7 linked regions of the Homo sapiens genome follow. The protein of the gene in region 3 interacts with the protein of the main gene of each other region in a biochemical or structural test. Each region holds a gene or a part of one and is shown on either strand. Other genes may lie near its edges.

Region 1 (3,340 bases), on a different chromosome or scaffold from region 3:
AGCAAATCTTTCCAGAGATTTGCTATGTCCCATGCCATGGGCAGAGATGAATACTCCCTGACGCATACCCTAGAGTTGTGCCCAGGCCTCTGCAGAGATAGACAGGGCAGAGTCACCCCAAGAGCTTGGGCTCTAGGGTCCAACAATGACCGGGATGTGACCTCAGGCAGGTACCTCTCCTTTTCACCTCCCTGTTTCTTTTTTTATTTTTGAGATAGAGTCTCGCTCTGTCAACGAGGCTGGAGTGCAGTGGTGCGATCTCAGCTCACTGCAAGCTCCGCCTCCTGGGTTCACGCCATTCTCCTGCTTCAGCCTCCTGAGTAGCTGGGACTACAGGCGTCCACCACCACGCCCGGCTAATTTTTTTTTTTTTGTATTTTTAGTAGAGACGGGGTTTCACCGTGTTAGCCAGGATGGTCTCAATCTCCTGGCCTCGTGATCCACCCACCTCGGACTCGCAAAGTGCTGGGATTACAGGCGTGAACCACCGCGCCTGGCCACCTCTCTGTTTCTTCATGTGTATAGTGGAGATTCAATTGTGCCTGCCTCATAGTTTTGTTTTGAAAATTAAATGAGAAAGAGCATATAATGCTCACATGATGGGTCTTTGTCACTACCATTAATGTCAGAGTTTGCCAATGGGCAACAGAAGCTCATTTGCGGGGAAGAGGACCCTTATCGCTAGAAAGCCCCGCCACTGGGAGGTGATGTGTGAGCCAAAATTTGAAGGATGACCAGGAGTTTGCTGGGAAGGGACCCCAGGCAGAAGAAACAGCACATGCGCAGATCTGGTAGTTGGGCTCAAAATGTAAGAAGAGAGAGTTCACTTTGATGTGGCCAGGCATGGCTCGGTCCTCTGAACCATTTTGCTGTGCTTTGGGGCAGTGGTAGTGCCTTTTGCTGGGTAGAATCAAACCATGTTCCCTGCTCTGTGTGCACAAAGGCCAGGCACAGGCCCCTCTCTAAGGGTCTTTTGATTTTGAGTCTCCTGACCCACCGTGTCTTCTGGTCACACACCACTGAGGCAACGGGGTGCAGTTTAGAAAACATGGGTCTTAGAGTCCCATAGGCCCTAGTCAGAATCCCTGCTCCATCTCCGAGTGGCTCTCCCACCTTGATTCAATCGCATGGCCTTTTTGGGCCTTAGTTTCCTTAGCTCTAGAAGTCTAAAGGGAACACTGGGTCCACTGTGGGCTAAGGCCAGGAAGGGCTATCTGGCCTAAGCCTGAAGTTCTCAGGAAACCTCAGATTTGGACTTTTGACCTGCTTCAGGATGTGGTTTAGTCATTGTGGGGTTGTTGTTGGTGGTGGATGTGGGTGTTTAAGCGATGCCTGGTGGGTAAGCCCTCTTGGGGGCAGGGATCCAGTATCCCAAGAGTGTGCATGGAGATGCTCTGGGGACATCAGAAGCTGGTGGAGGTAGTGGGGCCAGCTAGGAGGAAGAGCTATAGTGTAGGGGTCCCTGGGTGCACGCAGCCTGGACTTGAACATGTCCAACCCCTGCCCTACAGACTTCAACACTGACAACTTCATCTGCAAGGAGGACCTGGAGCTGACGCTGGCCCGGCTCACTAAGTCAGAGCTGGATGAGGAGGAGGTGGTGCTTGTGTGCGACAAGGTCATTGAGGAGGCTGACTTGGACGGTGACGGCAAGCTGGGCTTTGCTGACTTCGAGGACATGATTGCCAAGGCCCCTGACTTCCTCAGGTGCTGCCACTACAGGGGCCGGGCTTGGGCAGGGCAGAGCAGGGCAGGCCGGGATGTTGGGGCTGAGGCCCCTATCACTCGCTATTTGTGAGCAGTGGTGTGCGGCCAGGAAGCAGGAGGTCACGTTCAAGCCACCCTTGCCCTAGACGTGTGACTGGCCTTTGTCCCCTGCAGGGGGAAGGTTGAAGACCTGGGGGCCCCTTCAGTGATAAGTGGGGGCAGAACTCCCTGGGCACCGCTGTTCCTCCGTCTTCCCCCAGTGTTGATTACCTGCATCCACTATGCAGGGTTCCCTAATGAGGCACTGTCCAGCATGGGGCTGGGGCCTGCTGTGCTTTTCCCTGAGGAGCCTTTACCTGCCCGACCCAGGGCCTCTCACCCTCTCTTGCCCTTTCTCTCTTTCTAGCACTTTCCACATCCGGATCTGAGGACACTGCCGAGGCTGTAGGGGCCTAGAAGTCCACCATCCTGCCCTGCAGTCACATGGGTGTGGCCTCCAAGCTCCCCAGGAAAGCAGTGGCAGCCTCTGGGGTTTACACCACAAATATATCCTGTGGCCCTTTCAGCAAAAAAAAAACCTTAACCAGGAAGGGGGCCTGTGAAGGTTAGGACCCTTCCCACAGCCCCGCTGTGGTCCAGCCCCGGGACCCATGGCCTCTCTCCAGGCCCTCCGCACCCCGCCCCATGCCCCAGTCCTTTCCTACTCCAGAAATGCTCCCCACCCCCCCAAAGAGGGAAAAGCAGATAACCCAACAGGAGGTGGTGGGGTCTGACGTGTCCAAGTGCTGGCAGACACCCTGGTCACCCAGGACAGAGCGGAAAAAAAAAAAAGAGGTCAGGGTTTTAACGAGCTATGCAATCTTTTTCCAAAACCCAAGGTTGGGCTGCTTCCCACCCCTGCCTGTTCCCCTTCTCCCGGCCTCCTTCACAATGTGAAGCTGTGGGTGCAGTGGGCCCAAGGGCTCTTGCTCCTGTCTCTGCCTCTGGGTCATGAGTACCACCCTGCCTGCCTCCCCAACACCGTGGAATCCTCACTGGTGTGCTGTCCACAGATTTGTGAACTCCTGGTAGTAAAACACTTTTGCATCCCTTTGCTCTCCATGTATGCTAATGTTAGGAAATGTTTGAGGGTACCTTTGCTTCTGATCCTTGAAATCCCACCATTGGTGTCTCACCTCTCGGCATTAGGCAGTGCCTCCTGCTTTAGGCACTAACTTTGATTTCAGTGCGTGTGCCATCGGGAGGAAAACACATTCATGCCCCGAACCTTCCGTGAATTCCCTGACAGTATCTCTGGTTAACATTTGGGAGTGCTAACCACTCAGGCACAGGGACAGTTGCTTCAGTCTCAATCCTTAAACCCCCAAGGAGGGAGGGACTCTTACAGGCCTATATTTCAGGAAAAGCTGCATAGCCAAGTGGTCACTAAGAGTAGATTTCCCACAAATGCAACCTGAGCCCGCTCTGCCCAGGGTCAGGGCAGGGAGGAGGGGCACGTATGGTGTTCTCTCTGGAGATGATCAGTCCTGTTTTCTGCATCCCAGGCCTGGGGGTTGTTGGGAGTGGGGTAGCAAGCCAGCTGTCCACCCTTATAGAGAAGGGGACATGTGGATAGGAAGGGAAGTGACACACA
Region 2 (3,318 bases), on a different chromosome or scaffold from region 3:
CTCTCTAGCTCTCCCTGTGTGCATATTTACCTATATAGCCTACACTTCATAGACAGGTATGTACATTCAAAGTGCACACATGCAGAACATACTAATTCCAAACTCTTATGTTACAATTACATACAGAACTCAGTAGCTAAGGCCTGGTTTCCACTCCTACCTCTCCTACTTCCTGGCTGTGTGATTTGGGGCAAGTTTCCTTCATCTCCCTACCGCAAAATGGGAAGAGCCATACCTTTCTCATACATTTGTCCTAAGGATTAAATAAATTAATCCACTCAAAGTGCTTAGAACAATGCCTAGTGCATAGCATATTCTCAAGATTCATTAACTGTAAGGGTTTAAGGTTTATATCTGTGTCCCGAACCCCCTGAATCAGGTGTGCACAACAGGAGGTGCTTAATAAATGATACTTTCAGGCTCCGAGAGGAGAACCTGCCTAGTGTTGGGCAGAGATGGGCTTCTAACAGTGAGTGGGTCTGGCCTGTCCACTCTGCCAGGTGGCCTGAATGACTCATTCCTGTTTGCTAGGGGCAGGGATGCTTCATAGAATCCCTTCTGTGGCAGATTGAGTTCCCTAATTCGGTCTTACTCGGGCTAAGAAGATTAATTTTCCATCCCTGCACACACTACAAATCTATGTACACAATGGGGACAGAGTGGCACAGAGGAGTCAAGCAAGGTTCTTTCTTGGGTAAAATCCTATGAAAAAGCAACAAAAAAGTACCCCCAGGAGGTGCCAGAGCAAGCACATGGAATATCAGGCATCAACCCCATTCTTGTCTCTATCACCTTTCCCTCTGATGACCCCAGTTCCTCCACGAGGCCCTGGGTCTGCGCTGGGATGCCCCACAGGGTCAAGTTTCAAGCACAGGCTCAGAAGCTGACTGTGGTCCTCAGTCCAAATGCCAGGTCTGCCACTTCCAGCTTTGTGACTTCGGATAAGTTCTTTAGACTGAGTTTTGTGTTGTACGGACTCAATCAGGGGCACAGGAATCATACAGCATACAGCAAGCATTTAATAAGGCTCCTGGGTGCTGATTAAAGCTTCTGGAATGGGGGATTCCACCACACCAGCTAACAATATAACTTTTCACATGAGGCTCTTAGGCTTGTATAATTCTCAAATGGAAGATTAAAGAGATAACCTGGCTTCAGTTCTTTTCTTACTATGTGGCCTAAAGCCTGGGCCTCAGTCTCCCCATGTATAAGAAGCAGGTGCTTAGATTAATCAGTGGTTTTCAAATTTTTCTTTAGAAGCAATAGCACCTTTAGTTAATTAGAGCAAAACCTTATGCAAATCCAAAGTCTTATGCAAATCTTTTTACTTCTGAAAGAAAAGTAAAAAGAACTTTGGCTCAGATACCAGGAAGCCAGGGTCAGGGCTGAGGTGGGCCCAGTCATCAGGGGCTGTGCTCCCAGGAACCCTCTTTACAAGAGGCAGGTGAGACCTTCCATCTGTCCTGGATGAAGCCAGGCTCTGTCCCTATAGCTCAAGCCTCCTTGGAGCTGCTGGCTCTGTTGATTCCCAGGAGACAGGAGTTACCCAGCATGGGCCCAGGGTGCCCACTTGCCAGGCCGGTTCATCCAGGCTGGCCCTCGGCCATGACCTTGGGGAGTTCCCTCCATCCCTTTTGTCAACACCTGGGACAAAGCATTCCTCACCGCACATTCCAGTAAAGAACTCTCAACTGAGGCCAAATCGGAATAGCCCTTTATAGTGTGCAAAGTTATTTCATATTTTATTTTTCATGGACTCATTATATCAACCCCAGAAGGTATCACTGTACCCATTTTACAGATAAGGAAACTGAGGCTCATCAAGTTCGAAAGCTTCTCAGCCAAGGTCACAAGGCTGCCAAGTGATAGAGTAGGGGGAGGGGAAGCTAACCCAATTCGAAGGAGCCTCCAGACTTACAAGGGAAATTAACTTTTAATGATTAACTCCCAGATGCCAAACTTATACAGTGAAAGTCCTTTGCAAAATAAATGAGAAAGACTTAAGGCAGAAGAATGACTCAATGCCTATTTTCCAGAAGACTTTGATAGGTGCTTTTTCCTCTCCCTCCACCAGGCTGCACAGTCAGAGCCACCCCATAAGGAAGGTGTAGTCTTTCAATGTTCTAGGGCAACCTGAATAGGCAAAAGGAAGGGGCACCAAGGAGCCTCATGGCTGGAGGCATCCCTGCCTGCAGGTGCTCTCCCCCGCTGAGCCCCATTCCACCTTCAAGGCATCTTATAAGCAGCATGGGGACTTACCTGCCAGGACCTCCGTTCTCTCAAAGATGTTGCTGCCCTGCACAGTGCTGGACATTGACACCTTGTTGGACACATCCTCACTCTCTTCAACGGGTGAGATTCTCTTGGGGATAACCTCATTCTCCTCTAGTTTCTTGGGTTCGGTGGGGACTTGGCTCCCAGACCCTGCCCTCTCAGGGATATGGTTATCTAGAGGCACCTGGATGGGCGGAAAGGAGAAGAGACACTCAGCGTATTTTGGAAGAGACTCAGGGCAGGGGACAGGGACATTCAGCCAGGCAGAGAATCTGGTTCTGCCATATTCAGCTGAACCATATGGTCCTGGAGCAGGAATTGGCAACACTGTCTCCACAATTATGCTGCCAAAATCCTTATCCCCAACTTTTTTAGTATATCTGTCCCAAATGAAAAATGAATGCACCCAAGGGAACAGGGAAGCAGGTGCTCTCCTGCACTGCTGGCCACTGGTTATTCTAGAGCAACCACTCTGGAAGCAATTTGGCAAAACCTTAGACATCGCTTGCCCTTTAAGGTGGCAGTTTTGCCCTGGAAACTCTATTGTAAGGAGCTCTTCAGAGACTACGTGTAAAAGATGCTTGCTGCAGCTCCTCTGCCTATGAAGTAGCCATTCTTTTATTCCTTTACTGTCTTAATAAACTTGCTTTCACTTTACTCTATGGACTCACCCTGAATTCTACCTTGTGCAAGATCCAAGAACCCTCTCCCTTGGGGTCTGGATCGGGACCCCTTTCTGGTAACATCTTTCTGGAGAACCACAGAAGGGATGAGACGGAGGAGACTCCCGAATCAAAGGAAATGGACTGCAGCACTGATTGGAGGACTTTGGATATCACCTTTTGTCAGAACTAAGAGTTATGAATGGCCCTCACCATACTGGCCCTTTCTGACTGAACCCCTCTCTACCATGGATACAAGAGGCCCTAATAGTTAAGCAGGAATATCATCACCCTATTCAGCATGAAGAAGTTATAGAAGATGGATCTTTGTCCCTCTGCAACCCTTAGGATTAAGGGTTTTCTTACAAAAGGGAGGGGGAAA
Region 3 (3,500 bases):
TTGGGATGACGGACTCTGGGGGTAGATGGACATAAACCGACGTGAGGACCCAGAGGAGGAGCCTCAGCGAACCCCAGCCCCATGCCCATTCTGGCTGTGCTGGGAGTGACCCCGAAAGTCACAGTTCTAATCTCATCCCCCTGCTTCCTCTCAACAGAGGAGGAAACTGAGGCAGAGTGAGCTGACAGATTTGCTCAAAACAACTGACCTGCTCTAGTCAGACCAGAGTCGGGGCTGGAACCAGGCCTCTTGGCTGTCGGCTAGTGTGGCGGGCGGGAAGGGAGCTCCCCACAGCCTAACAACCCAGTGTGAATCTAGCACATATTTCCTGAGCACCTACTATGTGCCAGGCCGTGGCTGGGTATTTTCATGTTTTCATTTCTCTTGGGCATATGCCTCACCTAACCCAAGTACCGCCCCTATAGTGAAAAGATCGTTATCAACTATTTACGGATGGGGAAACAGTGGAGGGAGTGTCCTGTCCAAAGCCACACTGTGTTGAGGTCACAGAAGCAGAATTCTGACCCAAACTGTTGTTCGAGGTTCTTTGCCTAACCCATGCTGAGAAGGAGCTTGGAGTATTTTCAGCTCCCCAACCCCATCCCCACTTGGTCCTGCCCCTCTGCAAAAGTCTCCTGGTGTGGAAACTTCTCCCTCCCGTGCCAAGGCTTCCCTTCCCACTATAAGCTGCAAAGCCCCTGGGAGAAGGGCACTGGGCACAGAGGGGGATGGGGTGGAGCGTTTGCACAGGCGAGGCAGGATAAAGAGAGGAGGGGTGCAGGGCCCTGAAATATGAGGAGGAAGCTTGGGCCACTCACTCACCCGCCACATCGAACTCCACCTCCAGCACGACCTTGTGGGCCAGTGCGGCGTCCCGCAGGAGCTGGTTGGCTTCCTCCATAGTCCCGTCCTCGGTGGCAATGCCATTGATGGACAGGACACGGTCCCCCACCTGCAGCAGCCCACACCTGAACCCAGGGGGCCCGGCAGAGAGAAGAGGCTCCGTGACAGGTCCATTGGGAGACAAGAACGCCATGCAGGGCAGGACTGAACCTGGGTCACACCTCCTGGTCTGGGGTGACTCTCAGCTCTGCCCTGGCCCACCTGTGTATCCTCAGGAATCTGGCTAAGGGCTGGACCTTGCTGGACCTCAGTTTCCCTGTCTGTCCAATGGGGATGATGGCATGGGCCTTACAAGTTGTGTATACAGAGGACTCTGCCTTCAGGCAGACAGGGGTTCAAGCCCTGGGATTCCATGGGTGAGCTGTGTAATCCTGGGCAAGTGAGTCAGCTTCTCTGAGCCTCGGTTTCCTCATCTGTAAAATGGGGCTGGTGCTGGGGCTGATGCAATGGTTAAGTGAGATGCGCTTGTGAAGCTAGGGCTTGGTGCTGTGACTCAGTTTCTCTCAGAGAGTGGCAGGCTCAGTAGGGAGGGGGCAGGAGGCTCACCTCTCAGCCGGACTGTCAGGCTCGATGAAGCACACGAGGGGTGGGGAGGACAGGGTCTCGGTGGCGAAGATGCCGCCCTGGAGCTGGAGGCCAAAGCCGCTGAGGGGGTCTCCACAGAGCACGACCTCCGTGGTCTCCGTGTGCACAATCTGCCCGCCCGGCCCCACCGTGCTGGAGGCTAGCGACACTGTAGGACAGGTGGGCCCAGCATTCAGGTGAGCCGCCCCACGGAGGTCTTCCTGCCAGGGCCTGCCCATCCCGGGGCCCTAGGCACTGGAGCCAGAGTGCAAGGAAGTGGGAGCCCTGACTCAGTCTGGGACCAGACAGATCACAGCTCACTCTGAGCCTTGGCTTCCTCATCTGAACAATGGGATCGTTGATTCCCACCTCGTGGGGTGTGGCAAGGACTAGGGAAGACAGTGGCTGGGATTGACTGTCATGCTGTAAAGCAGGTTCTGGGGGGCAGTGTCATTTTATTGTATTATTGTGCTGTGATCTACTGTAGTATCTACTATATTATGTCACTCTGCTTTTCGGTAAGAGGTTTATTGAGATATAATTTACATACCACAGTAGTCACCTATTTAATGTGTACAATTCAGTGGTTTTTAGTGTATTCACAATTATGCAAACATCACCACGATGCATTTGAGAACATTTCATCACCTCCAGAAGAAACCCTGTTCCCTTCAGCCATCCCCAAAGATCTTCCTATGTCCCTCAGCCCTAGGCAACCGCGAATCTACTTTCATCTCTGCATTTGCCTGTTCTGGGCACTTTATATAAACAGAATCATGCACCATGTGGCCTTTGTGACAGGCTGCTTTCACTTGGCATAATGTTTTCAAGTTCATCCACATTTTGCAGGTGTCAGAATTGCATTCCTTTTTGTGGCTGAATAATATTCCATTGTATGGATACACCACATTTTGTTTATCTATTCATCCATTGGTGGATACTGCGTTCCTTCCACTATTTGGCTACAGTGAATAATGCTACTATGAACATTTGTGTATAAGTTTTTAGGTGGAGATGACACATGTTTTCACTTCTCTTGGGCATATACCTAGGAGTGGAATTGCTGGGTGATATGGCAACTCTATGTTTAACTATTTGATACATAAGGTTATTTAATAAATATTGTTTTACATTCCATATATGAAATATATTTGCATCATTAATATGAATCCTGAAAGTCATTTATTATTTATCAAACAAAATTTATTTGGTATTTCATTACTAATTATATTATTGTGTCATATTATATTATTAAATTATATTGTATATTATACATTACAAAATGTGTAATATGTTATGTTTTTAGGTATATTGTGTTTTTATATGTATTTATTTATTTATTTTGAGACAAAGTCTCACTGTGTCGCCCAGGGTGGAGTGCAGAAGCGCCACCTCGGCTCACTGCAACCTCCGCCTCCCGGGTTCAAGCGATTTTCCCACCTCCAGAGTAGCTAGGATTACAGGCGTGTGCCACCATACAAGGCTAATTTGTTGTATTTTTGGTAGAGATGGAGTTTCGCCATGTTGGTCAGGCTGGTCTCGAACTCCTGGCCTCAAGTGATCTGCCCACCTCGGCCTCCCAAAGTGTGGGGATTACAGGCGTGAGCCACCATGCCTGGCCTATTTGTTTCTTTTCACTACTATGTCCCCATAGTATGTACATTCAGTACTATGCCCCATAATTAATTAATTATAATTAATTAATAAATTACTATCAACAGCAATAATGATAGTACTTTCTTAGTTACACATCCCAGGAAGGAGACAGGCAGAGGAGTCGCAAGAGCCTCCAGTCTCCACATCCCCCACCTACGAACAGCATTTCTGCATCTTTTCATCTACATATTCCCCACTTTGGTGGCCAGGAAAGGTGGTTAGTAGAGATATATTTTCTCTCTCATCTGACTGAAATCTGTTTCCCATTTCCCTTTGGCTGCCAGGGAGTGTAGAACCATATTTAGCTTTTTTCAGACACCAGGTGACCTGTACTCCTCTCTTCTTTCACCTGGTTCTATCTCAAATGGCCCAGTTTG
Region 4 (3,500 bases), on a different chromosome or scaffold from region 3:
AAGTTTGTTAAAAGTTGTCTTATTGTCTAGAATATGGTCTACTTTGGAGAATGTTTCATGTGTACTTGGGGAGTATATACTTTTAAATCACTGTTATTCAGTGATTTCTTTCTTTAAATGGGCAAGTCCCCTACATGGTCTTCATACTTTTGGTCACTCCAGAGTGCCTTAAACATTTGGTCTTTAAAAAAAAAATTTTTTTTATCCAGAGTTTATCATTTTTATTTGTGAGACGATTAGTCTGTCACAGTTTACCACTACCATAGCCAGAACTCTTAGATTTCTTGTAATACAAGATGAAACTTTCTTTAAGCCAGTGTGTATTTTTTTTTTTTGGTTCTTTCAAACAAAAACTTCTAACTCATGCAGGTACACAGTAGTTCACACTGTATAAAATGAAATGCCAAGAACATGTAGGGGTGAGAAATAGGGAACTCTAGCTAGAACTATTTTTTGACTTGAATTGACCTGAATTAAAATAAATTAGAAACCAATTATACAGGAGGAGGAAGCACATACACCTGCTTTGTTTATCTGTAGATGAAACTATTTACAAAATGTTTCCATAGTATTTACAAATGAAGAAGGAAATAAATTGAAACACTACCTTTACACTCTGGAGCAGCACGACTCCACACTGAATTGTCACCACAATAAATCGTGCTCTCTCCAATAAGTGAAAATGGATCTGGTCCAGGTGCAGGATCACAACTATAAGTTACTGCATCAAGATACTCAAATACTTCTACTTCACTAAAGGTGTGTTTTCCATTTTTTATTTTTGGAGGTGGTGTACACAAAACCTCTTAAAAATGAAGAAAAAGAGGAAAGGAAATGTAAAAGATTAAGACAGCATTAGTAAAATTTCTGTGTCTTCAATAAATTTGTCAATATAGGGTTTCTACAAGCTGTTTGTGAATTCAATATGGATTTAAAAGAAGGTTTCTATGAGCAAATATATCATCCCAAATTCAAACCATTAATGTAGTAACTAACTTTCAGAACAAATCTCATTTTCTTAAAGTGTAAATACCTATTGATATGGTTTGGATCTGTGTCCCCACCAAATCGCATGTCAAATTGTAGTCCACAATGTTGGAGGTGGGGCCTGGTGGGAGGGGTCTGAATCATGGGGGTGGATTTCTCATGAATGGTTTAGCACCGTCCCCTTGGTGCTGTTCTCGTGATACTGAGTGCTTGGGAGATCTGGTTATTTAAAAGTGCGCAACACCTCCCGTCCTCCCCACCTTGCTCCTCCTGCTCCTGCCATGTGAGACACCTTGCTCTCCTTCTGTCTTTCCCAATGGTTGTTAAGTTTCCCGAGGCCTACCCAAACCCCCAGCAGATGCCAGCACCATGCTTCCTGTACAGCTTGTAGAAACATGAGCCAATTAAACTTCTTTTCTTTATAAATTACCCAGTCTCAGGTATTTCTTTAGAGCAATACGAAAACGGCCTAATACGCCTGTATTTATTTGGAAGGCCATGCTAAGTTCTGTTCTAGTCATCACAAGAAATGCTGACAATTAATGAGAAAATATGCTTAACTCGGTGCTAGTTAAGAAATCCTTTGCAATTTATAAATATATCCATTTTCTAAATTGGTGATTCACAATACCACCAAAATATTATTGTCTTTTTTCACTCTGATCCTAATAAGAATATAGTGATATTTTTCCAAAGGCTACATATTGTGTGATAACACAACAGGCCAAATACAATCTTGCTTTAAGCCAGATGTTGAAGAGATATGCAAAAAATGTGAACAATGCCACTATTCTCACTAATTTTATTTTGATTTGGAAAATTATTATTTTTCATAAAAATTATGTTACATATGTTAATTTGTATTGCATTTATTCTTACAAATTAATCAGGCCAGGTGGGGTGGCTCACATTTGTAATCCCAGCACTTTGGGAGGCCCACGGGGGCAGACTGCTTGAGCATGGGATTTCAAGACCAGCCTGGGCATCATGGCAAAACCCCGTCTCTTCAAAAATTACAAAAAGCCAGGCATAGTGGCACATGCCTGAAGCCCCAGCTACTGGAGAGGCTGAGGCTGCAATGAGCTGAGATTGTGCCACTGCACCCCAGCCTGGGAAATAGCCTGAGACCGTGTCTTAGGAAAAACAAACAAAACCAAAAAGAATCAATAATTATTTAAAAACCTCTCCGTTTGAATTCCAATATGATAAATACCAATAGATATAACCCACATAAAAGAAACCTCTTTGGGATCTTTGTTAATCTTAAAGTGTAAAGGGTGTAAAGGAGGCAAAAATCTTTGAGGACTACTGGTCTAAATTTAAAAAAAAAGAATTTACTTACTTTCACATATTGGGGGCTTACCGCTCCAAATTGCTACTGATCCTTTAAGTTCACAATATAGAATTTCTTCACCAATTAAGTAATAACTAAATGAGAAAAGAAAGGGTTACTGTTTTGTATAGCAATTAATAAGACACACATAATAATGAAGGAATTTTTTATATGGTTTCTTTTCTACACTACAGTAGTTTGAGGGGGTGGTTTCTTAAACAACATACTATATAACGAAAGTGCTAAATAAATCTGCAATTTAATCAAATAGAGTTTCCCCATTTGAATATATATTGGCCAAGAGCAAAGATGTCTAAATAAATCTGCTGTGCCTTTCCACCCAGCCTCTTTGCTGCCTCCTGCAATCACATTACACATTCATTTCTGTGCCTTTTCTCACACCACTTTGCACAGTAAGGACAAGGACTGTGTAGAGAGAACAGGCCCTAGAGCTGGAATGGATAGATTCAAGTCCCTGCTTCTCAACTTATCTAGTTTCTTGAGCTTGGGTAAGTCACTTAAAGTTCCTTCACTCAGCTTCCTAATTGATTAAAAGGGGATAACAGTACATGGGGTTGTTTAGGGGATTAGATAAGTTAGCATTTGGCACATAGATAGTGCTACATGAGTTTTAGCTTCTATTAATATTATTTAGAACAGAGTGTATTTCTAGGAATAGCTCACTGAGTATAAGAATACTTTCATTAAGTATACCCCTATACTCAATGAAATCTTCCCTGATTTAAATTCACAGGAATCTCTCCTCCTTCTGGACTCTTAGAGTAATTATCATGAATAATTCTACTTATTTGGTATTTCTCATTTAGTATTTTGCTTTTATTGCTCTCAGTATATATTATTTCTCAATAAGGTTAGAACTTCTTTTAGGAAGGTCACTGTCTTAAAGTTTTGGTATCCCTCGGTGTGCCTAGCAAGCAGTATGTGTCAACTGAATATTCCAATATTTCTACTTGACCAAATTTTAAAAACTGTCAGTTGCCTTACATAGTCACAGCTGATTTTTCCTCCAAGACTCACTTACTTTTTCTATATTATGGTGTGTTACTGCTATTGTTTGAATCTGGTTTGTCTCTACCAAAACTCATATTGAAATTTAATTGCCAGTGTAACAGCATTGAGAGGTGGTGGGGCCTTTAAGAAATGACTAGGTCATTAAGAG
Region 5 (3,500 bases), on a different chromosome or scaffold from region 3:
CTTTGATAAAATTCAACATCGCTTCACATTAAAAACTCTCAATAAACTAAGTATTGATGGAACATACCTCAAAATAACAAGAGTTATTCATGACAAACCCACAACCAATATCATATTGAATGGGCAAAAGCAAGAAGCATTCCCTTTGGAAACCAATACATAACAAAACTGCCCTCTCTCACCACTCCTGTTCAATATAGTATTAGAAATTCTGGACAGGGCAATCAGGTAAGATAAAGAAATAAAGCATATTCAAATAGGAAGATAGGAAGTCAAATTTTCTCTGTTTGCAGACAACATGATTGTATATCAAGAAAACCCCATCATGTCAGCCCAGAAACTCCCTAAACTGATAAGCAACTTCAGCAAAGTCTCAGGATACAAAATCAATGTGCAAAAATCACAAGCATTCCTTTACATCAATAACAGACAAGCAGAGAGCCAAATCATGAATGAACTCCCATTCACAATAGCTACAAAGATAATAAAATACCTAGGAATACAGCTAACAAGGATGTGAAGGACCTCTTCAAGGAGAACTACAAACCACTGCTCAAGGAATTAAGAGAGGACACAAAAAAATGGAAAAACATTCCAACCTCATGGATAGGAAGAATCAGCATTGTGAAAATGGCCATACTGCCCAGAGTAATTTATAGAATAAATGCTACTTCCATCAAACTACCATTGACATTCTTCACAGAATTAGAAAAAGAAACTACTTTAAATTTCATATGGAATTAAAGAAGACCCCGTATAGCCAAGACAATCCTAAGCAAAAAGAACAAAGCTAGAGGCATCATGCTACCTGACTTCAAACTAAACTACAAGGCTACAGTAACCAAAACAGCATGGTACTGGTCCCAAAACAGACAGACCAACGGAACAGAAGAGAGACCTCAGAAATAACACCACACATCTACAACCATCTGATCTTTGACAAATCTGACAAAAACAAGCAATGGGGAAATAATCTCCTATTAAATAAATAGTGCTGGAAAACTGGCTAGTCATAGGCAGAAAACTAAAACTGGACCCCTTCCTTACACCTTATGCAAAAACTAACTCAAGATGTATTAAAGACTTAAATGTAAAACCCAAAACCATAAAAACCCTAGAAGAAAACCTAGGCAATACCATTCAGGAAATAGGCATGGGCAAAGACTTCATGATGAAAACACCAAAAGCAATTGCAACAAAAGCCAAAATTGACAAATGGTATCTAACCAAACTAAAGAGCTTCTGCACAGCAAAAGAATCATCAGAGTGAACAGGCAATCTACGGAATGGGAGAAAATTTTTACAATCGACTCATCTGACAAAAGTCTAATATTCAGAATTTACAAGGAACTTAAATTTACAAAAACAAACAACCCCATCCAAAAGTGGAGAAAGGATATGAACAGACACTTCTCAAAAGAAGATGTTTACATGGCCAACAAACATGAAAAAAAGCTCAACATCACTCATCATTAGACAAATGCAAATCAAAACCACAATGAGATACCATCTCAGGCCAGTCAGAATGGCAATTATTAAAAAGTCAAGAATAGATAGATGCTATAGATGCAATTGGTGCTAGCAAGGCTGTGGAGAAACAGGTACGCTTTTACACTGTTGGTGGGAATGTAAATTAGTTCAGCTATTGTGGAAGACAGTATGGCAATTCCTTACAGATCTAGAACCAGAAATACCATTAGACCCAGCAATCCCATTATTGGGTATATACACAAAGGAATATAAGTCTTTCTACCGTAAAGCCACATCCACATGTATGTTTACTGCAGCACTATTTACAATGGCAAAGTTATGGAACCAACCCAAATGCCCACCAATGATAGACTGGATAAAGAAAATGTGCTACATATACACCATGGAATACTATGCAGCCATAAGAAGGAATAATATCATGTCCTTTGCAGGGACGTGGATGAAGCTGGAAGCCATCATCCTCAGCAAACTAACACAGGAACAGAACACCAAACACCACATGTTCTCATTCCTAAGTGGGAGTTGAACAATGAGAACACATGGACACAGGGAGGGGAACAACACACACCAGGGACTGTTGCGGGGTGGGGGCAAGGGAAGGGAACTTAGTGGATGGGTCAATAGGTGCAGCAAATCACCATGGCACATGTAAACCTAGATAACAAACCTGCACATTTTGCACGTGTATCCTGGAACTTAAAGTAAAATTTTTAAAAAATAAATTTTAGGGCAAACTAGCTGTGCTGTCTATGAAAATATATTTTGCATTTTTATGGTTCCTTTTACTTCAGCATTTCAAAGACGTTAAACTTATTTAAATTTTCACTATATGAGAAAGGTATTATACCAAGTATCAGTAAGAGATTTTGCCAGAAAAGTAAACCACAGGAAGTTTGAGTGAGTTTTTCACCCAATGAAATATCAATTTGTTTAATATCTGAGAATAGCATTTAGGACTCATGACAGATGTCCATGAATTCAAAATCAATTTCAAGTTAGCATGCCTAAGAAATTTTTAAAAAAACAGTATTCATCATACAACTATGGAACAGAAATTTATAATTTAGTCATAAAATAAAGAGAAACGGTATATTATTTTAATGAGAAAATTTCAAGTATCATTAACTACTGTCTAGGTTTGCTGATGTCAGAAGTGATGGAAAATCTACAGCAGGTGAATCACATTACAGTCTGTAAATTCAATACTAATTTACTAGCATTACTACTTTTGAGAAAGTGCTGAAATTAAATTGCATTTGTTAAATGACAATTGTTAGGGAACCACATCAAATGGAATTATTGTTTCAAAACTGCAATTCAGACAGCCTCCACATTTTGATTTTTGTTGACCTCCAAGAAGTAAAATGTTGACCATTAGATAACGCTTTATGTAATTCTCATAGCTTGAGAAACAGTATACATTTAATAAGAATATATTACCTCATTAATATACTTAGCTAATATAAAATATAATTTTTTCATTCATATATAATATACTGAGTTAATATTATAAGTAATATAATTAGTTAATATAGAAGTTTAAAGTTAATAAAATATAGTTAGTGACTTATTTACCATATTATACTTTATATTTTAATTTTTCCAACTGTTTCAAATATATCATGTTTTATAAAAAACATGTTTGATGGTTATATTCATGTGTTAAATTTCCAAAGCCTTATTTGTCCAGCATGAGGAGATATCACTTCAGGAAAAACAACAACAACAAAAAAAAAACCTTGAACATTCAACATGTTGACATACTTTGCTAATAGATTTTCCCCACATGACCTCAAGTTTGATTTTTATGAATGAAAGCCTTTTGCACTGTTGCACTGACGCATCGGTTGTTACATTAATTGGGGATAAAAGGTGCTTTTAATGAAAATCGTCTGGAAACAAAAGGCAGCATGGGGAAGCAGCAGTTGTCACACTCTTGGACAGAAGGTGGCAGCAGCTGAAGTTCCTGGACTGTTCACAGGCCTTCTCTCTGTGCTTCATATTTTCAC
Region 6 (4,136 bases), on a different chromosome or scaffold from region 3:
TGTCTACCTTTCCTTCTACACAGATTGTGAATTCCAAGAGGACACAATGTATATCCTGTTTGTTCGCAGATGTACCTTCAATGCCCAGAATAGTATCTGGCATAGAATAAACTTTCTAAAATAAATATTTGTTGAATAAATGAATTAAAAATCTAGGTGATAACTTCAGGCATGGTTAGATCCAGGTTCTTGGCATGTCATTAGAATTTTGTCCTGTCTCATAGCTTTTCTCTCCTCTGCGCTGGCTTCATTCTCAAGCAGGCTTGATGTGTTACAGGTGATGATAAGACGGCCACCAGCGGCTGCAGGTTTACATTCTAATAATTTTGCAGCCTAAATGGAGAGAGAGTGAGTGCCTCTTTCCTGATTGTTTCAGAGAAAGCCTTGGATATATCATATTGTCTGGGCTTGGGTCAAGTGACAATCCCTAAAACAGTGTCCATGGGTAGAGGAGGAAAATGTTGTGACTGACTGGGCCTGGGTCATGCGGTCCTTTGGAACTGGGGATAAAATTCAGCTCCATTTAGACTGAGAAGAGGGGAGAGGTGGTTTCCTAAAAGAAAAGGGGGTGCTCTCACTGGAAGAAGATGGCGGCTAGACAACAAATTTCCACCGCAAATGTCAACGACCCAGCCGCCGACTGAGCCCAGAACAGCGTTCTTCTCCCGCCTCTCCATTTTCACACGCAGCCAGATGGTTAAGCTTCTCTCCTCCCAAACGTTTTTTCCCCTGCCTCTGTCGGGTAAGGGCTTCCTCATCCCTCAATGCCTGGTCCAACTATGATCTCCCTCACCCCGACTCTTAACAGGTACTATCTCTCTCCCTCTTCTGAGTATCCTGCTTGTTTCTACTTCTCTTGTAGTTAGTTTTGTACGCCATGCCTTGTATAATATTTTACTTACTTGTATACATCATGAGTTCCTTTTGAAAAAGGGTACGGTCCATTCCCGGTGTGTCCACGCCAGCCCCTCACGCCCTCTGGGAACCGCGGTGATTCGATGCCGGCTGAGGCCGCCAGGGAGCGCTCGGCGCCCGGCACGAGGCCGTCAAGGGCGGGAGGCGCTGTGATTGGCAGACGCGGCCGTCAATCGGGCGCAGGTGGGGCGGGCCGGGCCGCCTGTGAGGCCTCTGGGCGGGAGGCGGGGCCTGCATGAATGGGGCGCGCGTCGCGCGGGCTGCAGTCGGCGCTCGCGGGGGAAGCCCGAGTCTCGGCCGGGTGTGGGTGGGAGGAAGCGAGGTTGGCGGGGGAAGGGAAAGAGCGCGGGGGGCGGGGAGGGGCAGCGCCCGGGCGGCGCGCCGAGCGCGGCGAGGCGGCGGGTGTGAGCAAGAGCCGGCCGCCTCCGTCCGCCTTGCTTCGGTGCGGCTGTCCGCTACGCTGCCTCCGCCCTCGCCGCGCGCCCCCGCCAGCGGGACTCCAGGGAACCCCCGGCGCCCTCGACGGGGCCGAGGAGTCGGGACTCGGGGAGCCGGCGCTGAGGGAGGAGCCTGGTCGGAGCCGCGGAGCCGAAAGCTCCGGAGCGTGGAGGTGGGGGGCCGAGGCCCCTGAGGGGGCCCCGCCGCGATGGGCAACCTGGAGAGCGCCGAGGGGGTCCCGGGAGAGCCCCCCTCTGTCCCGTTGTTGCTGCCGCCCGGCAAGATGCCGATGCCTGAGCCCTGTGAGCTGGAGGAAAGGTTCGCCCTGGTGCTGGTGAGAGCTGAGCCCAGCCCCTTCCCCCGCGTACCGCCCCTCAGGTCCCGACGCCCGGGCTGGGACTTTGTGCTGGGCCCCCGTCCCGCCCACCCTTTCAGTCGGGGTCCCGAACGGATCCCGGCCTCCAGTGTCTTCCCAGGAACCTCTGAGCAGCCGCTGGCCGGCCCGGACAGCCCCGTCGGGGATCTCGGGACCGACGCCTCCACCGCTGGACCCTTAGGAGAAGTCCCCAGTTCGGGACCGTCCTAGGAACCAGGCTTCTCCCTCCTTCTTCCTCCCCCTTCTGCTGCCCTTTTCCCGTTTCCCCGCTTCTTCGCCAGGCTCCCCGTCCCTAGCATTCTCAGCCCGGAGCCTCTCGCGGGTGGGGGGAATTCAGAAGCGCGGCCGGCTCGCTCCTCAGCAGGCTTCCCTGAGTGGGGACACCGCCTCTCCTGCGAACATGGAGGCTTCCCAGGGAGTGGGTCCCACTCCCAGCCCAGACCAGATGTTTGGGGGGAGAGGGGGATGGGGAGGCGGCTGGCAGCTCCTGAAGGGGGTGGAATAAAGAGTATGCCATTCTGCTTATTTTCAGAACGGCCTGCAGGCATCCTGCTAAGTTAGAGTGGATTTGCCTGAAAGGCTGAACATGTGGATAAACCATTTCACTGGGGTATTTCTCCAAGTGAAACAATACACAAACCATCCCGCCTCCTCCCCCCCTTTTCACGTTAAGCCATAGTGACTGGTTTGTGTTGTTTAGCCTGTGCTTTTTAGTCTTTCTGTGGGTTTCAAACGGTCTGTATAAATGGGTTTTTAGAGCTGACTTTGGGATTCTTCTTTGGTGTGGGAATTGGACATTGATGTCAGTGGCTCTATGAAGCGAGAGGTTCTGAGCTGGTATCACCGGGAAGGAGCCAGAAAATATGTTTGCGCTGAAAATGAAGTTTTGCAGAGCGAAAACATTGGTAAACCGGGGTTAATCTTTGAGAAATTTGGGGAAATAGTTCTCACTTCCCCAAAGAGTTTTCTAAGAAGCAGTAATAATTCTGGCGTTATTGTTGGTATGGCCGACTCTGCCTTTGCCTCTGCCCATCAGGAGGGATAAGTTGTGGACTTAGCAGCCTTATTGGATTTCATCTGCCTTGGAATAAGGAGATTAGATCTGTTGGCAACAGTGGAGCTGTCTAGAGATCTTGGCCTCTCCGATGGTAGAGAATCTGACATCAGCCCACTGGCACCAGAGCTGGCTCAAAGAGGGTCCACAGTGTTCCAAGGGGAAGTGGTGTCGCTGGCACCTCTCTGCCCGCCAGCTCTGCGAAGGGCCAAAGGGATGTGGGCCATACATCCTGTGGCCCTCTGCATTTCCCCCAGCCTCCTCGGGGGATCGGGTGAGTCAGTGATTACCAATGTGCTGTGACCATCTCACAGGCTGAGGAGGAGAGACTGGGACTTAGTGGCCTTGAGAACAAGAGCCCAACTGTTGGGGAAAAGAGTGGGAGGGGATCTGCACTCTGGTGGGGGTGTGAAAATCCCCAGCAAGCTGACACAAGTTAGCTATAGAAACTGGGGAGAAAGGGATGGGGTGAGGTGGATTGGGTGGGAGGCTGCCTTAGGTGGGAGCTGCCAGGCCATTTTTTGTGAGAGCTCAGAACCAGAATCCATCATGTTCTCATTGGCCCTTGGTTGACCATTTCGTTTAGTTAGCAAACTAATGGCTTAATATTCACAAAATGCACGTGATGTCCTAGTTAACCAGGACACCAGAGCACCAGGAGAACCCAGGTCAAATGGGGGACTGGACCACCCACTTGCATGCCTTCCTTTCTGTATAAAATTTTGATTTGTTTCCTCATGCCTTTTGTTTTGGTCTTGTTTCTGTGTGCCTGAGCTGCTGCTGATGAAGGGTTGGAACAGGGCAGGCCAGAGCTAGTTAGTTGTCTCAGGAGACGGGATTTCACCTCAGTTTTCCAATACAGGGAAATCATCCCTTCTTGGGGATTTGAGTTCTTCTCTGGGGGCTCTTAAGTGTCCCTGTGTCCACTGTTCTGAAAGGTACCCTTTCTACCATGCTTTGGGAACAGTACTGACTGAGTCAGGTGTTTGACCCAGGTACAGGCTTAGGGGTATTTCCTGAACAGTCAGGAGAAGCATAGTGTAGTAGAAAAATCAAGGACTCTGGCTTAGCAAGTATCTTAACTTCTCTGAGCCTAGACTTCTTCCTCATCTGTAAAATGGAGGTAATCCTGTTCTGGTGAGATTGTGAGAATTAGGTGAGCCCCTGTATATAAGGTGCTTGGCACCCAGTAAGTACTCAATATAGATTATAGATTAGCTTCTTTTTTTTTTTTTTTTTTTTTTTTTTGAGATGGAGTTTGGCTCTGTCATCCAGGCTGGAGTGCGGCAGCACGATCTCAGCTCACTGCAAACTCAGCCTCCCGGGTTCAAGCAGTTCTCCTGCTTCAGCCTC
Region 7 (4,127 bases), on a different chromosome or scaffold from region 3:
TTTTCTGTTTCAGATTTGCAAGTACCAGTCTCTAACCTTGTGATCATGCCCCGTTTTCCAGCTCCCATCTTCCTCTTTAACATACGTAGTTGTTGAAACTGACGCGTGATTTTCCTGTCTCTTGTTCCAAGGGATGTTGGAGGAGGAAAGGCAGGTGTTAGCACAGCAATAATTACTTAGTGCAGATAGCAATTAAAGGTCCCCCTTGAGCCACATAGTGGCCCTCTGTTCACCACACAATTTCTGCTCCCCAGGAAACCCTGACGAGAAACTCATCAGAGGCAAAAGGCCGAGCCTGTCCTGCTTGTCCCCTGAGCCTCTGGGCTGAAATGATTCCTTTGGAGCTTGAAAGGCAGCCAAATGATGGGTTCAGGGTGGGAAACCCTTGACTTGTTCTCCCTGTCCCTGGGAATGCCTTGCCCTTCTCAGCCTGTTATTTAATTACCTGGGTAGCTACTTCATGAGGTCATGAAACACGCCCCCATCCAGTTCTCAGAACCCTCCCTCCCCATCCTGTGTGTGTATTGTGTCTGTGTACGCACAATCCACAAACCCACAGCAGTTTGAAAGCACAGGATGCTTTTTCTCCGATTGCTTGCCCTGCTAATGGAAGGAGAGACTGGGTCTCCCCAGTGAGCCATGTGCTGAATATATGCTGACCCCTTCCAAGGGAAGAGGGCCATGTGGAAGGCAGGCTCCGAGGTGTCGAGTGGGCTCCAGAGGCAATACACTCTGGACCCTTTGCATTCTTGGATGTGGCACTAGGCCAGTTAAAAGCTAAACTTTGAAGGAGGCCAACAGAGGAGCGAAGGGAGATAGGAGCCCGACTCTGTAATTCTAGGGACTTGGGGGTCTCCCCTTTGAACTAATTTAAAGAGACTGTTTTGTTGTTTCTTTTGAGTCAGACTGAATTGGAGGACACCCCTATTGAACTGCTTTGGGGTATGCTGTGGGGTTTTTGTTCAGATGGGGAAACTCTAGGATTCCTCCCTGATGCCTCAGAAATTTTATCTTTTAGATCTTGCAGATTGATTTGCATACTTTGACCTTGGGGCAGGGAAGTGGAGGGTGGTAAGGGGAATGACTTTTTCTTTTGGCCCTTCAAAATCGTAAATGTTTTTGCGTATTGTAGCCTGCGTAGTGCCAGCTACATCTAACTTCCTGTGATGTAATTGTTTCCTCACTAGCAAGAGAGGGAATTGGAAAGACTGTATTTTTTGTGGATTTGATGTGTACGTATCTTTAACCTTTCACCCCTTCCCATTTTTAATAGTTGTAGCTGGTTTTCTGGGGGCAGGGGGCTGGGAGGTAGAACAGGAAGGGAGGCATCCTCCCCTTTTTGTCATATTGAGCTAAAGAATGCTAACTGATGGTGGTAGCTTTATAGCAGCGACTCCCATTGTTGAGCAAGATGGAATTTGTGAAAGCCATTTATATCCTCCGTCTAGTAGGCGTCACTTAGCCAGGGCTATAATTAGTGGCCATGCGCTATTTATTGTGTGTTTGGTGGTGAGAACCCTGGGAGCTGAGCCAAGCATCCTGCCCTGGCACAGCCAGACAGGGTGCCCGGAGAGACCGGAAGGCCTCTACCAGGATCGGGGTTAGGTTGTTACCCTTAGAATCAGACCTGGAGAGACAAGAGTTGCTTCTCCAAGTCAGTCTTTGAGCCTGGGATGCTCTCCTTAGAAAAATGTATGTGCCCAATAAAAATGTGCACAATTTCAAGGATTTTCCAATGCCCTCTTGGAACCATCAGTGGAACCTAGGTTAAGATGGCATCCCCAGGAAGGGACTGCTCCAGGTCCATCGCCTCCAGAGGCAGAATCTGCAAGTATCTTGGGAACTGTAAAGCTTCTGTGTGCTTATGTCTCTTGTGACAATAGCTGCTGTAAACTGTAAAGGTCCTACTTGGGGATAGTCTTTGCTGGGACCCCAAAAGCTCTATCCTCACCAGTGGGGATTAAAGACTGGCAGAAGTGTAGTGTAGGGCCGTGGCTCTTAGGCAGGCACAACAGTTTCATATCTAGGTTACTCCAGTGTTTGATTCTTGTGTTTTGCCATTGCCCTTAGATTCTAATCCCAACTCACTCCCACCATCTTTTCTTCCTTCCAGACTGTGTCAGGGAAAAGGGAGGCAAGGTCCTGGTCCACTGTGAGGCTGGGATCTCCCGTTCACCCACCATCTGCATGGCTTACCTTATGAAGACCAAGCAGTTCCGCCTGAAGGAGGCCTTCGATTACATCAAGCAGAGGAGGAGCATGGTCTCGCCCAACTTTGGCTTCATGGGCCAGCTCCTGCAGTACGAATCTGAGATCCTGCCCTCCACGCCCAACCCCCAGCCTCCCTCCTGCCAAGGGGAGGCAGCAGGCTCTTCACTGATAGGCCATTTGCAGACACTGAGCCCTGACATGCAGGGTGCCTACTGCACATTCCCTGCCTCGGTGCTGGCACCGGTGCCTACCCACTCAACAGTCTCAGAGCTCAGCAGAAGCCCTGTGGCAACGGCCACATCCTGCTAAAACTGGGATGGAGGAATCGGCCCAGCCCCAAGAGCAACTGTGATTTTTGTTTTTAAGACTCATGGACATTTCATACCTGTGCAATACTGAAGACCTCATTCTGTCATGCTGCCCCAGTGAGATAGTGAGTGGTCACCAGGCTTGCAAATGAACTTCAGACGGACCTCAGGGTAGGTTCTCGGGACTGAAGGAAGGCCAAGCCATTACGGGAGCACAGCATGTGCTGACTACTGTACTTCCAGACCCCTGCCCTCTTGGGACTGCCCAGTCCTTGCACCTCAGAGTTCGCCTTTTCATTTCAAGCATAAGGCAATAAATACCTGCAGCAACGTGGGAGAAAGAAGTTGCTGGACCAGGAGAAAAGGCAGTTATGAAGCCAATTCATTTTGAAGGAAGCACAATTTCCACCTTATTTTTTGAACTTTGGCAGTTTCAATGTCTGTCTCTGTTGCTTCGGGGCATAAGCTGATCACCGTCTAGTTGGGAAAGTAACCCTACAGGGTTTGTAGGGACATGATCAGCATCCTGATTTGAACCCTGAAATGTTGTGTAGACACCCTCTTGGGTCCAATGAGGTAGTTGGTTGAAGTAGCAAGATGTTGGCTTTTCTGGATTTTTTTTGCCATGGGTTCTTCACTGACCTTGGACTTTGGCATGATTCTTAGTCATACTTGAACTTGTCTCATTCCACCTCTTCTCAGAGCAACTCTTCCTTTGGGAAAAGAGTTCTTCAGATCATAGACCAAAAAAGTCATACCTTCGAGGTGGTAGCAGTAGATTCCAGGAGGAGAAGGGTACTTGCTAGGTATCCTGGGTCAGTGGCGGTGCAAACTGGTTTCCTCAGCTGCCTGTCCTTCTGTGTGCTTATGTCTCTTGTGACAATTGTTTTCCTCCCTGCCCCTGGAGGTTGTCTTCAAGCTGTGGACTTCTGGGATTTGCAGATTTTGCAACGTGGTACTACTTTTTTTTTCTTTTTGTCTGTTAGTTATTTCTCCAGGGGAAAAGGCAATAATTTTCTAAGACCCGTGTGAATGTGAAGAAAAGCAGTATGTTACTGGTTGTTGTTGTTGTTCTTGTTTTTTATAGTGTAAAATAAAAATAGTAAAAGGAGAAAAGCACTTCTTCATGTTGTTGGTGAATTGGGATAAGGTAGGAATACCCTTGGGTGGGGACCCAGCCTGCTTCATTGGGATTTATTTGTAAATGAACAACAGGGTGATGGTGGTGGAGGTGCAGCTATAGGCATGACGATACAGAATGTTGCTTTCCAACTGAGGGGTTTCCCTAAGCTAACCGGCAAGAGAATTCCTTAGTGCAGGCCTCATAGGGAGGTGGTGAGAGTATCTGCCCACTCAGGGCCCTTCACTGCCATCGCACTAGGCAAAGAGCTCTACTTGAACCTCAGATTCCTCACCTGTGAAGAGTGAGCTGAGTTAGATGATCCCAAGAGTCCCTTAAAGCATAAGGCCCTTGGTTCCAGTAAGCCTGAGTGCCAAGCTTGTGGCCAGCTACCTCCCTCCAGTGCCTGGCATATGGCAGACTCAGAAAAGGCTGGGTAAGTGGCCAAGGGATGGAGAAGTGAATGAGGTGAAAGTTTGCCCTGCCAG

Evidence for each region.
Region 1: the proteins of GRIP2 (region 3) and CIB2 interact in a test that uses a peptide from one of them, tested with the Homo sapiens proteins (one large-scale study listed by IntAct).
Region 2: the proteins of GRIP2 (region 3) and SDC4 interact in a test that uses a peptide from one of them, tested with the Homo sapiens proteins (one large-scale study listed by IntAct).
Region 4: the proteins of GRIP2 (region 3) and CD46 interact in a test that uses a peptide from one of them, tested with the Homo sapiens proteins (one large-scale study listed by IntAct).
Region 5: the proteins of GRIP2 (region 3) and CTNNA2 interact in a test that uses a peptide from one of them, tested with the Homo sapiens proteins (one large-scale study listed by IntAct).
Region 6: the proteins of GRIP2 (region 3) and FMNL3 interact in a test that uses a peptide from one of them, tested with the Homo sapiens proteins (one large-scale study listed by IntAct).
Region 7: the proteins of GRIP2 (region 3) and DUSP5 interact in a test that uses a peptide from one of them, tested with the Homo sapiens proteins (one large-scale study listed by IntAct).

The regions. Positions count from the first base shown.
Region 1 is NC_000015.10:78,104,106-78,107,445, reverse strand, and holds the end of CIB2 (calcium and integrin-binding family member 2), read left to right. Parts: intron 1-1,511; coding exon 1,512-1,707; coding exon of another isoform or gene 1,708-1,798; exon of another isoform or gene 1,799-2,107; intron 2,108-2,113; coding exon 2,114-2,135; 3' UTR 2,136-2,840; downstream 2,841-3,340. UniProt on the Homo sapiens protein: Calcium- and integrin-binding protein that plays a role in intracellular calcium homeostasis. Acts as an auxiliary subunit of the sensory mechanoelectrical transduction (MET) channel in hair cells.
Region 2 is NC_000020.11:45,328,107-45,331,424, forward strand, and holds part of SDC4 (syndecan-4 precursor), read right to left. Parts: intron 2,459-3,318; coding exon 2,260-2,458; intron 1-2,259. UniProt on the Homo sapiens protein: Cell surface proteoglycan which regulates exosome biogenesis in concert with SDCBP and PDCD6IP.
Region 3 is NC_000003.12:14,512,843-14,516,342, forward strand, and holds part of GRIP2 (glutamate receptor-interacting protein 2), read right to left. Parts: intron 1,637-3,500; coding exon 1,450-1,636; intron 969-1,449; coding exon 823-968; intron 16-822; coding exon 1-15.
Region 4 is NC_000001.11:207,758,554-207,762,053, reverse strand, and holds part of CD46 (membrane cofactor protein isoform 3 precursor), read right to left. Parts: intron 2,416-3,500; coding exon 2,330-2,415; intron 806-2,329; coding exon 608-805; intron 1-607. UniProt on the Homo sapiens protein: Acts as a cofactor for complement factor I, a serine protease which protects autologous cells against complement-mediated injury by cleaving C3b and C4b deposited on host tissue.
Region 5 is NC_000002.12:79,876,551-79,880,050, reverse strand, and holds part of CTNNA2 (catenin alpha-2), read right to left. Parts: intron 1-3,500. UniProt on the Homo sapiens protein: May function as a linker between cadherin adhesion receptors and the cytoskeleton to regulate cell-cell adhesion and differentiation in the nervous system. Required for proper regulation of cortical neuronal migration and neurite growth.
Region 6 is NC_000012.12:49,704,606-49,708,741, reverse strand, and holds the start of FMNL3 (formin-like protein 3), read left to right. Parts: upstream 1-1,336; 5' UTR 1,337-1,561; coding exon 1,562-1,687; intron 1,688-2,213; exon of another isoform or gene 2,214-2,592; coding exon of another isoform or gene 2,593-2,634; intron 2,635-2,720; exon of another isoform or gene 2,721-2,874; coding exon of another isoform or gene 2,875-3,057; intron 3,058-4,136. UniProt on the Homo sapiens protein: Plays a role in the regulation of cell morphology and cytoskeletal organization. Required in the control of cell shape and migration. Required for developmental angiogenesis.
Region 7 is NC_000010.11:110,507,907-110,512,033, forward strand, and holds the end of DUSP5 (dual specificity protein phosphatase 5), read left to right. Parts: intron 1-2,113; coding exon 2,114-2,520; 3' UTR 2,521-3,627; downstream 3,628-4,127. UniProt on the Homo sapiens protein: Dual specificity protein phosphatase; active with phosphotyrosine, phosphoserine and phosphothreonine residues. The highest relative activity is toward ERK1.